Homo sapiens: one gene and its partners. The protein of the gene in region 2 interacts with the protein of the main gene of each other region in a biochemical or structural test. Each region holds a gene or a part of one and is shown on either strand. Other genes may lie near its edges.

Region 1 (3,500 bases), on a different chromosome or scaffold from region 2:
AATAACTGAGATGAAGGCTGAGAATAACTACATTTTTGTCAAGTAGATGGGCATTCCAGGGAAATAACAGCACAGAGGCTGAGTTCCACAAGCCTAGAGCACAGCAAGGAGTTCAGGTGAGTTGAAAGCACACTCATAGAGAGAAGTAGTCAGAAAGAAAAGGTGGTAAAGATTTGGGGCATTACTAGAAAAGCAACGTAAGAAATCTATACTTCATATGCAACACAGCCTCAGTTTAGGAAAGGTAATCTAGTAGCAAGAAGCAAGAACTAATTAATCGATAAAACATAAACAATGGTAAAACAAAGTAACTACAAACCAACCATTAAGAAAAAAAAATGTGGTTAGCATCACGGTGAAGAAACAGAAGGGAGAATAAGACAAATGCATGAACCAGAAACTGTCAATTTAGAAATTCCAAGGCATGTTGACTAACTGAATAGAACAAGGAAGGAGAAGTCAATGAAAACATCAGTATTTTGAATCTGGATTAGTTGTGGATTGATGGATATACGTGCTGGTTTATTTGAGGGTGGGGTAGAAGTTAATAAGTTTGGTTTTTAAAATGCTGCATGTGTATTATTACACTTCACTCAGCCATCTTTTGCAATATTTTTTAAAAGTTTGACTTGCTGACTGTACCAAATTGCACAATCATACTGCAATACCAACAACTCCATTCAATCCTAATACTAATCATCTGGAGTTCGGGCAGGCCCCACAGGTTAAGGGCTCAGTTTCACAAGGCTGCCCCACTTCAGATGCCAACTGCAATGAGGTGCCCAGGCTACTCACACTTCTCCCTGGCTGAAGTCTACAAATTCTGGGGTTATCACACCTCCCCCCATTGCTATTACTATAACAATTCACAGGACTCAGGAAAACACCGTACTTACTGTTACAGTTTATTATAAAGGATACAAATGAAGAGCCAGATGAAGAGGTACACAGGGCCAGTCTGAAGGGTCAGGGTGCACCACCCTCCCAGCACGAGGAGGTGCTCACCAACTCAGAAGCTCCCTAAACCTGATGATTAAATCACTGACTAATGGTGATTACCACCAATCTCCAGCCCCTCCCCTCGAGGGAGGCTGGGGGTTGAGCCTGAACGTTCTAACCCTCTTAACATGGGGTTAGTTTTTCTGACAAGCCCCCACCCCAAAGCTATCTAGGGCCCCCACCCCCGCTATAAGCCATCTCATTAGTGTAGAAAAGATAGTAAATTCAAAGGGTTTCCAAAGTTCTGCCGAGGGAACCTGGGCAGAAAAAAATATTCATTTTTTATCATACCACAGCATCCCCCAAAAGGGCATGTCCACCAGAACCTCAGAATGTGGCCTTATTTAGAAATAGAATCTATGCAGATGTAATTAGTTAAAATGAAGTCATTCTGGATTAAGACTGGCCCCTAAATCCAAGGACTGGCGTGGCAATTCCATTTCTGGGTATACACTCAAAAGAACTGAAAGCAGGCACTTGAAGACACATTAATATACTCAAGCTCCTATTAGTATTATTTACAATAACCAAAAGGTGGAAGCAACTCAAGTGTCTATTGAAGGATATATGGTTTAAAAAAAAATAGTATAGATATATAATGGAATATTATTTAGCCTTAAAAAGGAAGTTCTGACACATGCTACGACACTGATGAATCTTGAAGACATCATGCTAAGTGAAATAATGACTCAAAATCTTACAGGGCAAGCTAACACAAGAACCCTGTACAGCCTGTTTATATTCTTAATATATTCTGAGTCATTTCCCTCTGTTTTCCTTTAGAATACAAATACTTTTTAAAGTTCCAGTTCATAGCAGTCATATTAAACAGAACCAAGAAGAAAAAATGTGTCCCCATTAGTCCAGAACTTTAAAGGAAGAACAGCACATCCATGAAAGCCAAGGGGTAAAATATTAACTGAGCAAAACGAAAGAGGTCAATGACCTCCTTACCTGGAAAATCTCCTTCTAAGGCCTAAACATTGTACAAGACATTCTATTTTAATAGGGGGATCAATTTTCCTTCAAGACTGAAGATATCTACTAGATTTCTACAATTCTCTATCATGCAGCAATCAGACATCTACAGTTAACACAAACTTTTACTTACCATTCTATTTCTTCTTCTTTTCCAGAATCCTCGACTTGGATAAGATACCACATAGACTATTAGCTTGTGATAGGGTTCTAGCAATTATCTAATCTAAGGGTCAGCAAACCAAAGCCCATGGGCCAAGTAGGGCCTGCCACCTGTTTCTGCCCAAATTTAGCTACCACCCGTGTATGTAAATAAGCTTTTAATGGAACACAGCTATTCCAATTCAGGCATATATTGTCTATGGCTGCTTTCAAGGTAAACGGCGGAGTTCAGCACTTCCAACAAAACTCATCTGCCCTGCAAAGCCTAAAATATTTACTATCTGACCCTTTACAGAAAAAGTTTGCTGACCTTTGTATTCCAAAGGTTCTCAACCTTCTTTTTCCTCAATATCACACTCATGTATAATATGTTCCTAGTCCAAATCACTAATAGTCAAAATTCCTTATTTTATAGATGAGGAAATCCAGATCCTTTATTTAAATATTAACTACAAATCAGGTAATGTCCAATAACTTTCGAAGTGAACATATGAGCCTTACAGCATAACTAGTAAGTTCTGAATAGCCAAGCCAAATTTTCAGAAAGAGTTCCTACACCATGTTGCTTTAGAAATAATTTGTAGTCACTGTTTTAAAAATCTCCTATGTTACACGGGCCCCAGGAGAGGTTCTCCCTAAAATGAAGTTTTTATTTTGTTTATGAAGTGTAGTCCTCATTGGTCATTTGTTTGTCTTTCAACAAACTTTCATCATTCAGGGTTTAAAAATCAATCATAATAGAATTCCTGCTTGATATGAGATAGGACCCCTCCTATTATGGAAGTTATAAAGGCTTGCTCTATAAACTTGGGTAGCCGAGAAGAGGCAAGTGAGCTGAGCTCAGCCTACTGGATGTTCCCATCATGACTTAAAATCTATAGGAACTGACACTCATTTCTTTTCCCAGGAACCTAGACCCTTTTTTTTTTTTTTTTTTTTGGTGAGACAAAGAGTTTCCCTGTTGCCCAGGCTGGAGTGCAGTGGTGCGATCTCGGCTCACTACAACCTCCACCTCCTGGCCTAGCCATGAAGCCTTCTAAATGGCTGAGTTTAAGGGATGAAATGTCAAACAAAGAGGAGAAAATGTTGTTAAAAACTTCTAGAATGAAAAAAGGTCACATAAAAAATGATTAGGAATCAGAATGTCCTCAAACTTCTCAAGAGCAGATCTGGATGCCAGAAAACACAACAATACCGCCAAAAATCTTACAAAAATAAACTCAAATCTAAAATTCTGGACCCAACAAAACCACCAATCAAGTTGTGAAAATTAAAATTTCCTTCAGACTCAGGAGTCTCAATCTCAAAAAATTTACCTTCAACACACACACTCAAGAAGCTGTCGGCCAGGTGCAGTGGCT
Region 2 (3,500 bases):
AGCTTAGCCAACATGGCAAAACCCCATCTCTACTAAAAATACAAAAAATTAGCTGGGTGTGGTGGTGGGTGCCTGTAATCCCAGCTACTTGGGAGGCTGAGGCAGGAGAATTGCTTGAACCCGGGAGACAGGTTGCAGTGAGCCAGACTGTACCACTGCACTCCAGCCTGGGTGACAGAGCAAGACTGTGTTTAAAAAAAAAAAAAAAAAAAAAACAAAACACCAATCACACTACTGGGAAAGAACAGTTATTTAGGGTATAGGGTGGATGAGCCAGGATATTTAAGATATGTTTATTATCTGAGAGAACAGTAAGAGGCCCCTTTGGAAAATGTCCTGAGAAAGCTGAGGTGAATGTGGGGCCTATCTCATGTGCTCACCCTGTCAAGGATCGTGGCTTTCACTGACTTACCCGTCCAATGCCACAGTTACCCATCCAATGCCACAGTAAAGGGAAGGAGTGGGGAGAGGGAGAGGCAGGGGGACTATGAGAAGAAATAAAGGCCTTTTCCCCGCTTACAATTCTGTTCCTAATAAACTCCTGATAAAGCCACTCATGAGATAACCAAGAGCTATAAAATGCAAGCTTACCTGGATATGGCACTCGGCCCTTTGTTACTAGTTCTGTTTGCAGAATTCCAAATGACCAGACATCAGACTTTATTGTAAACCGACCATACAGTGCAGCTTCAGGAGCTGTCCATTTGATTGGAAATTTTGCACCTAAAATAATGTTGACCATCTTGCTTAATTGTTTTTTAAAAATCTATTTGTGTAAACATAGCATATGCAGGGCTAATGTTCTGTCAATATCTCTACTGTAGTCATCAGTGTCAATTCTTTAAATGTACAAGATACATGGGATAAAAATTCTTTAATTTTTAAAATTCATATTGAAATAAATCACATTTCTTCCTGATTAGACAGCTGATGATATAAAAAATAAGTTGGCTGTGGGAACAGAAAACAATTTAAGAAAATAGAGGTTGAAGCTCTAGTAAGCCAAAGATACATGTTATAATATGTGTAACTTTTAAGTACAGTCTGGCACCTAATAGCTGTAGTTAACTATTGGTTGATGAGTGAATATTCTATTGAGTTATAATGTTTATGGGTTTTCCTACTTTTTATATCATTCTGGAAAATTTTATTGTACTACTTTTAAAAGTCCATGTTAATTAACTCAAATACTTACTGTATATCTTTTTTGTGGAGGGCATTATGCTAATCACTATGGAAACCTAAAAAGCATGGCTTTCGGCCGGGCGCGGTGGCTCAAGCCTGTAATCCCAGCATTTTGGGAGGCCGAGGTGAGTGGATCATGAGGTCAGGAGATTGAGACCATCCTGGCTAACATGGTGAAACCCCGTCTCTACCAAAAATACAAAAAATTAGCTGGGCGAGGTGGCAGGAGCCTGTAGTCCCAGCTACTCGGGAGGCTGAGGCAGGAGAATGGTGTGAACCCAGGAGGCGGAGCTTGCAGTGAGCTGAGATTGCGCCACTGCACTCCAGCCTGGGCAACAGAGTGAGACTCCGTCTCAAAAAAAAAAAAAAAAAAAAAAAAAAAAGCATGGCTTTCATGAAGTTTATAAACTTATTGCAGAAATAATATTATAGGTGTCTTACATTCTTTAAGTTATTTATATGTGTTTGTAGATAGTGTTTTAAAACAGAGTTCTTTAGATATTTAGACAAACAGATGATCAATTTTCCTTGGCACCATTACAAAATGTTTTATTTAAAAAGTGGCAGGTGGTTGGGCACAGTGGCTCACGCCTATAATCCCAGCAATTTGAGAGGCCGAGGTGGGCAGATCACCTAAGGTCAGGAGTTCAAGACCAGCCTGGCCAACACGGTGAAACCCTGTCTGTACCAAAAATACAAAACTTAGCCAGGTGTGGTGGTGCATGCCTGTAATCCCAGCTACTCGGGAGGCTGAGGCAGGAGAATTGCTTGAACCTGGGGGGCAGAGGTTGCAGTGAGCCAAGATCATGCCACTTCACTCCAGTCTGGGCAAAAAAGCAAAACTTGGCCAGGCGCGGTGGCTCACGCCTGTATTCCCAGCACTTTGGGAGGCCGAGGTGGGCGGATCATGAGGTCAGGAGATTGAGACCATCCTGGCTAATACGGTAAAACCCCGTCACTACTAAAAATACAAAAAAAAAAATTAGCCGAGCTTGGTGGCAGGCACCTGTAGTCCCAGCTACTCGGGAGGCTTAGGCAGAATGGCGAGAACCCGGGAGGCAGAGCTTGCAGTGAGCCAAGATCGCGCCACTGCACTCCAGCCTGGGTGACAGAGTGAGACTCCATCTCAAAAACAAAACAAAACAAAAAAAACCAGGAGCAACTACAACATACAACATCACTAATCATCAGGGAAATGCAAATTAAAACTACAGTGAGACACTACCTTACTCCTGTAAGAATGGCCATAATGAATAAGTAAAAAAAAAAAACAATAGATGTTGGTGTGGATGTGGTGAAAAGGGAACATTTTTCCACTGATGGTGGGAATGTAAATTAGTACAACCACTATGGAAAACAGTATGGAAACTCCTTAAAGAACGAAAAGCAGAACTACCATTCAATCCAGCAAACCCACTACTGGGTATCTTCCCAAAGGAAATGAAATCAGCCAGGTGTGGTGGCTCACGCCTGTAATCCCAGCGCTTTGGGAAGCCAAGGCGTGTGGATCACCTGAGGTCAGGAGTTTGAGACCAGCGTGGCCAACATGGTGAAACCGTGTCTCTACTAAAATACAAAAATTAGCCGGGCCTGGTGGCAGGTGCCTGTAATCCCAGCTACAGGGGAGGCTGAGGCAGGAGAATCATTTGAACCTGGGAGGTGGAGGTTGCAGTGAGCTGAGATTGTACCACTGCACTCCAGCCTGGGCAACAGATTGAGACTGTGTCTCAAAGCAAAAAAAAAAAAATCATTATATGAAAAAGATACATCCACAAATGTTTATAGCAGCACAATTCGCAATTGCAGATATGGAGCCAATCTAAATGACCATTGACCAATGAGTGGATAAAAAAAAATGTGGCATATATACACCATGGTATACTACTCAGCCGTAAAAAGGAATGAAATAATGTCTTTTGCAGAAACTTAGAGCTAGAGGCCATTATTCTAAGTGAAGTAACTCAGGGATGGAAAACCAAATATTGTATGGTCTCACTTAAAAGTGGGGCTAAGCTATGAGGACACAAAGGCATAAGAGTAATATAATGGACTTTGGGGAGTAAGGGGGAAAGGTTGGGGGGTGGATAAAAGACTACATGTTGGAGGTGAAACCCCGTCTCTACTGAAAATACAAAAATTAGCTGGGTGTGGTGGTACGAGCCTGTAATCCCAGCTACTCGGGAGGCTGGGGCAGGAGAATCGCTTGAATCTGGGAGGCGGAAGTTGCAGTGAGCCGAGATCGTGCCGCTACACTCCAGCCTGGGCTGGGCAACAGAGTGAGACTCCGTCTCAAAAAAACAAACAAAAAAACCTAC
Region 3 (3,106 bases), on a different chromosome or scaffold from region 2:
CGGCCTGACTTCTTTCCTCTATCCTTAGGGCTCATCTCTGAAGAGGAGCTCGGGGCCAGTGTGGCTTCCCTGAGCAGTGAGAACCCATATGCCACCATCCGGGACCTGCCCAGCTTGCCAGGGGGCCCCCGGGAGAGCAGCTACATGGAGATGAAAGGCCCTCCCTCAGGATCTCCCCCCAGGCAGCCTCCTCAGTTCTGGGACAGCCAGAGGCGGCGGCAACCCCAGCCACAGAGAGACAGTGGCACCTACGAGCAGCCCAGCCCCCTGATCCATGGTGAGCCCTCCCTCTCCACTGGCAGGAGCAGCAGAGAACTGGGACAAGGGAGGCAGAAAAACAGAAGGAACAGAGGGAGAAGAGAAGGCATGATGTGGCATCAAGAGTGAGGCCTTTGGGGTCAGCTTCGGGCTCAAATCAGGCATGACGGGGAGGCGACGTGGCCTCTCAGAGCCTGTGTCCTCATCTGGAGAACAGTATGGTGTACCTTCTTCGCAGAGCTCAGGATAGAAGTGGGGTCGTACAGCATCAGAGTGGTGGAGTTGGTACCCAGAAAAGTAGGGAGCCAGGCAGGTGATAAAGTCTCCTCATATCCTGGGAGGTGGGCGGGCTGAGGTGGCTTTCTCCATTGGCAGCTGAGAAGCTAAGAGAGTTTTGCTTGGAGCCGCACGGCCAGCTGATAGTAAACTGGTGTATGTATCCAGGCCCCATCTGCTTCTCTTTGCCTTGAAGAGGCTGAAGAGGAGAGGAGTGCAGTGGGAGTGGAGGGAGTGGGGAGAGTGGTGGGAGGAGCCACTCCCTCTTATCTTGTCCTCATGTTTCCAGACCGAGACTCTGTGGGCTCCCAGCCCCCTCTGCCTCCGGGCCTACCCCCCGGCCACTATGACTCACCCAAGAACAGCCACATCCCTGGACATTATGACTTGCCTCCAGTACGGCATCCCCCATCACCTCCACTTCGACGCCAGGACCGTTGAGGAGCCAGGATGGTATGGCAGAGGCCAGCACACCTGGCTGTTGCTGCTCAAGGCTGGGGACAGAGCCTAGTGTACCCCTGCCAGGAGCAGGGAGTGGACCGGCAGGCTGTGAACATGAACAACGCTTAACAGAGCAAGTGATGGGAGCCTTGTTCCTGGGTTCTACCATGGGAGACGCTGATCAGCAGGATGCCTGGCTCCCTTTCCCAACCCACTGCTCCCAAGGCCTCCAGGGCCCTGTGTACATAAACTGGTGGGTTGGAAGTTGCTGGGTAACTCTGATTTCAGACATGCGTGTGGGGTACCTTTTCTGTGCATGCTCAGCCTGGGCTCTGTGCGTGTGTGTGTTTCTGTGATTTTAGAAGGGTACCAGGCACAGGTTCTGTCCTAGGGCACTTACCATTTAGTAGGGAGATGGAACCAACCCAATTAACTCTAGCAATAGCCTCCTAACTGGCCTCCTCCATTGATTCAGTGAACCTTCCAATGCATGGCTCATAATTTCAAAATACAGGCTGGTTAGTTACTCCCTACCTGAAAGCCTTCATAGGTGCCTCTTTGCTCTTCTGCCAGTATCAAAACTTTTGAAGGCCTTAAAGGCCCTGCTTTGCCTGGCCCATCTGTCTCTCCAGCCTCACCTTGAACTGTGTTCCTGTCACTGCACGCCAGTCACACCGGCCTCTAGGTCCTCCTGTAGGCCACTCTTCTTTCTGGCACAGGGACCTGCACACCTGGAGTGCCCTTCCTCCCCCACTCGCCTGTTCACCCCTGCTTTTCCTTTACACCTCCTCCTCAGGGAAGTGCCCACCCTCCGTACATCTTTCACAGCCCTGATTGCAGCTGTGTTCACTCACCAGGTACCTGCAGAAGGCCTACAGGGTGCCAGGCACTTCTTTAATGTGTTCTTTCTTTATGTGATTATTTGATTAATCTCTGCCTCCCCCACTAGACTGTAAGCTCCCTGAAGGCAAGAATCCTGTGCTTATGCTCAATATTAGCTCTCCCTTGGCACAGAGTAGGCACTCAACAAATGCTCCCCAAAAGGCTGAGTGGCTGACTGAATTAAGTACCAGTGACATGCAGTAACTGCTAAGATAGATGAGCCATCTGTATGCTCTGACAGTTACAGACTGAATAAGTTGGAGACTTCCCTAAAGGGTGGCATTTCCCCAGGGTAACAACGCAGAGCTCAGGTGTGGGAAGGTGCCAGGGGCAGGGGTGCAGAGGGGCTGAGGCTGAGGGGGGTGCAGAGGCTGGAGAAAGGATAACAGGAGAGAGTATACAGGCATGCCTTGATTTATTGCACTTCACAGGTAGCAGAATTTTTAAAGAAATTGAAGGTTTTGGGACATATATGTGACAGCAATAGGTTAAGAAAAGCAAAGCAGAGAAATTGAAGATTTGTGTCAACACTGCTTTAAGCAAATCTGTTGGCACCATTTTTCCAATAGCATGTGCCCATTTTGGGTCTCTACATTGCATTTTGGTAATTGCTTGCAATATTTCAAGCATTTTCATTGTTATTATATGTGTTATAGTGATCTGTGATCAGTGATCTTTGATATATTATTGTAATTGTTTCGGGGCGCCATGAACCGCACCCATATAACACGGTAAACTTAATCAGCAAACGTTGTGTGTGTTCTGACTGCTCCACCGACCAGCCGTTCCCCCAAGTCTTTCCCTCTCTTAGGGCCTCCCTATTCCCTGAGACACAACAATATTGAAATGAGGCCAATTAATAACCCTACAGGGGCCTCTAAGTGTTGAAGTGAAAGGAATAGTCACACATCTCTCACTTAAAATCAGAAGCTAGAAATGATTAAACTTAGTGGGGAAGGCATGTTGAAAGCCAAGACAGGCTGAAAGCTAGGCCTTTTGCACTAAATAGCCAAGTTGTGGATGCAAAGGAAAAGTTCTTGAAGGAAATTATAAGTGTTACTCCAGTGAAAACATGAATAATAAGAAAGTGAAACAGCTGGCCGGGTGCGGTGGGTCACGCCTGTAATCCCAGCACTTTGGAAGGCCAAGGCAGGTGGATCATGAGGTCAGGAGTTTGAGACCAGCCTGGCCAACATGGTGAAACCCTGTCTCTACTAAAAATACAAAAAATTAGCCAGGTGTGGTGGCG
Region 4 (3,500 bases), on a different chromosome or scaffold from region 2:
TAGCCTCCCAAGTAGCTGGGACTACAGGCACGTGCAACCGCGCCTGGCTAATTTTTGTATTTTCTGTAAAGACGGGGTTTTGTCATGTCATCCAGGATGGTCTCAAACTCCTGAACTCAAGCAATCCACCCACCTTGGGCTCCTGAAGTGCTGGGATTACAGGCCATGAGTCACTGCACCTGGCCAAGTTCTCCGACCAAGTTCTATTTCTTACATACTAATTACTAGGACCTAGAAAAAAGGTCAGGAATCATCTCATTTAACCTTCAAGGTTCAGTCCTTTCCATTCTCAATGTAAAAATAGTATTCTGGTTTAAAACTGGCTGTGTTCATTTTCTATTCCCACTTAATTTTCTCTCCTTATTCCAAAATTATGTTTGTTCCCACACTTCAATCCTCTTTCCCTCATCCCGCATGAATCCCTGTGGTCTTTTCCTCCTTCCTTCAATCACTCCTCATGATACTAACACTTCCTGAAAACCAACTAAATGCCAGACGCGATGGCTCACGCCTGTAATCCCAGCACTTTGGGAAGCTGAGGCAGATGGATCACCTGAGATGAAGAGTTCGAGACCAGCCTGGCCAATATATAAATACACTAGGTGCAGTGGCTCACGTCTGTAATCCCAGTACTTTGGAAGGCCAAGGTCAGGAGTTCAAGACCAGCCAGGCCAATATGGTGAAACCCTGCCTCAACTAAAAATACAAAAATTAGCCAGGCGTGGTGCCGGGTGCCTGTAATCCCAGCTACTCAGGAGGCTGAGGCAGGGGAACCGCTTGAACCCGGGAGGTGGAGGTTGCAATGAGCCAAGATCACAACACTGCAATCCAGCCTGGGCAACAGAGTGAGACTCCGTCACAAAGAAAAAAAAAATTAGGACTCTGGCTCCCAGCCTTTTTTAAAAACTTAGTATACTTGAACATATAAAGATGAACTTAAAGAGATAATAAAGAAATGTAAATAATTGTATGGGAAAAAAACTTGTGATGTTACACTGAGTTTTAATCTTGCAAATAATGCAAAACATTACAGGAACAATAACTCAAAAGATGTTTGACTTACTGATAAAGGTTTGAACATTCCCCTTTGTAATGTGCAGTCATAACTTCTAAGCTAAAAGCCAAAGGTGAAAAAATATTCCCAAGAAAAGCATTCCAAATAAACAAAAAGTTCACTTATATTTCAAGTAGATACAGAATAAAACTATTCAAGAAGTATCTCTTGGCTGGGTGTGGTGGCTCACGCCTGTAATCCCAACACTTTGGGAGGCTGAGGTGGGCAGATCACTTGAGGTCAGGAGTTTGAGACCAGCCTGGCCAACATGGTGAAACCCCGTCTCTACTAAAAATACAAAAAATTAGCCGGTCGTGGTGGAGGGCACCTGTAATCCCAGCTACTCAGGAGGCTGAGGCAGGAGAATTGCTTGACCCGGGAGGCCAAGGTTGCAGTGAGCTGAGATCGTGCCACTGCACTCCAGCCTGGGTGACAGAGCGAGGCTCCGTCTCAATTTTTTAAAAAAAAAAAGTATCTCTTTTTATTTTTGGGGGACAGTCTTGCCCTTTCACCCAGGCTGGTGTGCAATCACACAATCAGGTCTCACTACAGCCTTGACCTCCCGGGCTCAAGCAATCCTCCGGCCTCAGCCTCCTGAGTAGCAGGGACTACAGGCATGCACTGCCACTCCTGGCAAACTATTTTTTAATTTTTATTAGAGATGGGGTCTCACTATGTTGCCCAGGCTGGTCTCAAATTCCTAGACTCAAGTGATCCTCCTGCCCCAGCCTCCCAAAGTACTGGGATTACAGGCATGAACCACCACACCTGGCCAAAAAAAGTACTTTTCATGGCAGATACTTAGGTAGCAAATTAAGCAAGATACAAAACTAGGTACATAATCTGACTTTATGTTACAAAAATGTATGACCACTAATATTAAAATCCACAGAAAAAAAAAAATCAGGACAGAAATACACCAAAATGTTAAAAGTGGTTATCACAGCTACACACTGGGACACATGCCTGTAATCCCAGAACTTTGGGAGGCCAAGGTGAGCAGGTGGCTTGAGCCCAAGAGTTCGAGACCAGCCTGGGTAACATGGCAAAACCCCATCTCTACAAAAAAATTAGCTAGGTGTGGTGGCACACACCTGTGGTCCGAGCTCCTTGGGAGGCTGAGGTGGGAGGATTGCTTGAGCCCAGGAGGTCAAGGCTGTAGTGAGCCATGACCATGCCCTGGGAGGTAGAGTAAGACCCCACCTCTTTAAAAAAGTGGCAAGGCGCGGTGGCTCACACCTGTAATCCCAGCACCTTGGGAGGCCGAGGTGGGCAGATCACCTGAAGTCAAGAGTTCGAGACCAGCCTGGCCAACATGGTGAAACCCCACCTCTACCCAAAATACAAAAATTAGCTGCGTATAATGGCATGCACCTGTAATCCCAGCTACTTGGGAGGCTGAGGCAGAATTGTTTGAACCCGGGAGGCAGAGGTTGCAGTGACCCAAGATTGTGCCACTGCACTCCAGCCTGGGAAACAGGGCAACACTCTCTCCCCCCAAAAAAATAAATAAATAAAATAAAATAAAATAAAAGGGGTTGTCTCCACTAATAAGATTATGAGTGATTTTTTACTTTTCTATATTTTTCCAAATTTCTCATTTAATTATGTCTTGCTCTTATAATCATAAGTTTTTAATAATAATATTTGACTACAGATGTTGTTCCTCTTTGGCCTTCATACCAACCCTAATCCTCAGTATCAATATGTACTTCAAATACAACTCAGGCACTTCAGATGGCTTTGTAAACTGGGTCAATGCTATTCCATCTGAAAGGAAATTACAGAATTATTTTCAATTCAATTATACATCCCTGCAAAATAATTTGAGGGCAGCTTTGAATGCTGTAAGTGAGTTGTGATGCCATCTATATTAATCCTAAAACTTATCTTCAAATTGATTCCCAAAGTCCAACACACTTTTTATTTAATAAATATTTACAGGCCAGGCACGGTGGCTCAAGCCTGTAATCCCAGCACTTTGGGAGGCCAAGGCAGGCGGATCACAAGATCAGGAGATTGAGAACATCTTGACCAACATGGTGAAACCCCGCCTCTACTAAAAATACAAAAATTAGCCAGGCGTGGTGGTGCACGCCTGTAGTCCCAGCTACTCTAGAGGCTGAGGCAGGAGAATCACTTGAATCCAGGAGGCGGAGGTTGAAGTGAACTGAGATTGTGCCACTAGCACTCCAGCCAGGGCGACAAGAGTGAAACTCCATCTCAAAAATAAATAAATAAACAAACAAACAAACAAACAAACAAATAAATTTACAGACTGCCTACTGTCTGTCAAGCAGTATTCTAGGTGCTAGCAATTCCACAGTGAACAAAATAAACAAAAATCTCTGCCTTCATGGAGTTTACATTCTATTAACAAAATTCAATGTCTTATAAAGTCAGGCAGCACACAGTGGGCTCAAAAAAGTACACAACAGGCCAGGTG

The links. Proteins that work in one complex are often made in the same cells at the same time.
Region 1: the proteins of YES1 (region 2) and RBM33 interact in a surface display test, tested with the Homo sapiens proteins (one large-scale study listed by IntAct).
Region 3: the proteins of YES1 (region 2) and PEAR1 interact in a surface display test, tested with the Homo sapiens proteins (one large-scale study listed by IntAct).
Region 4: the proteins of YES1 (region 2) and EIF4G3 interact in a surface display test, tested with the Homo sapiens proteins (one large-scale study listed by IntAct).

What each region holds. Positions count from the first base shown.
Region 1 is NC_000007.14:155,651,161-155,654,660, reverse strand, and holds part of RBM33 (RNA-binding protein 33), read right to left. Parts: intron 1-3,500. UniProt on the Homo sapiens protein: RNA reader protein, which recognizes and binds specific RNAs, thereby regulating RNA metabolic processes, such as mRNA export, mRNA stability and/or translation.
Region 2 is NC_000018.10:732,243-735,742, forward strand, and holds part of YES1 (tyrosine-protein kinase Yes), read right to left. Parts: intron 724-3,500; coding exon 592-723; intron 1-591. UniProt on the Homo sapiens protein: Non-receptor protein tyrosine kinase that is involved in the regulation of cell growth and survival, apoptosis, cell-cell adhesion, cytoskeleton remodeling, and differentiation.
Region 3 is NC_000001.11:156,913,824-156,916,929, forward strand, and holds the end of PEAR1 (platelet endothelial aggregation receptor 1 isoform 1 precursor), read left to right. Parts: intron 1-28; coding exon 29-277; intron 278-823; coding exon 824-975; 3' UTR 976-2,606; downstream 2,607-3,106.
Region 4 is NC_000001.11:21,166,898-21,170,397, forward strand, and holds part of EIF4G3 (eukaryotic translation initiation factor 4 gamma 3), read right to left. Parts: intron 1,143-3,500; exon of another isoform or gene 1,064-1,142; intron 1-1,063. UniProt on the Homo sapiens protein: Component of the protein complex eIF4F, which is involved in the recognition of the mRNA cap, ATP-dependent unwinding of 5'-terminal secondary structure and recruitment of mRNA to the ribosome. Functional homolog of EIF4G1.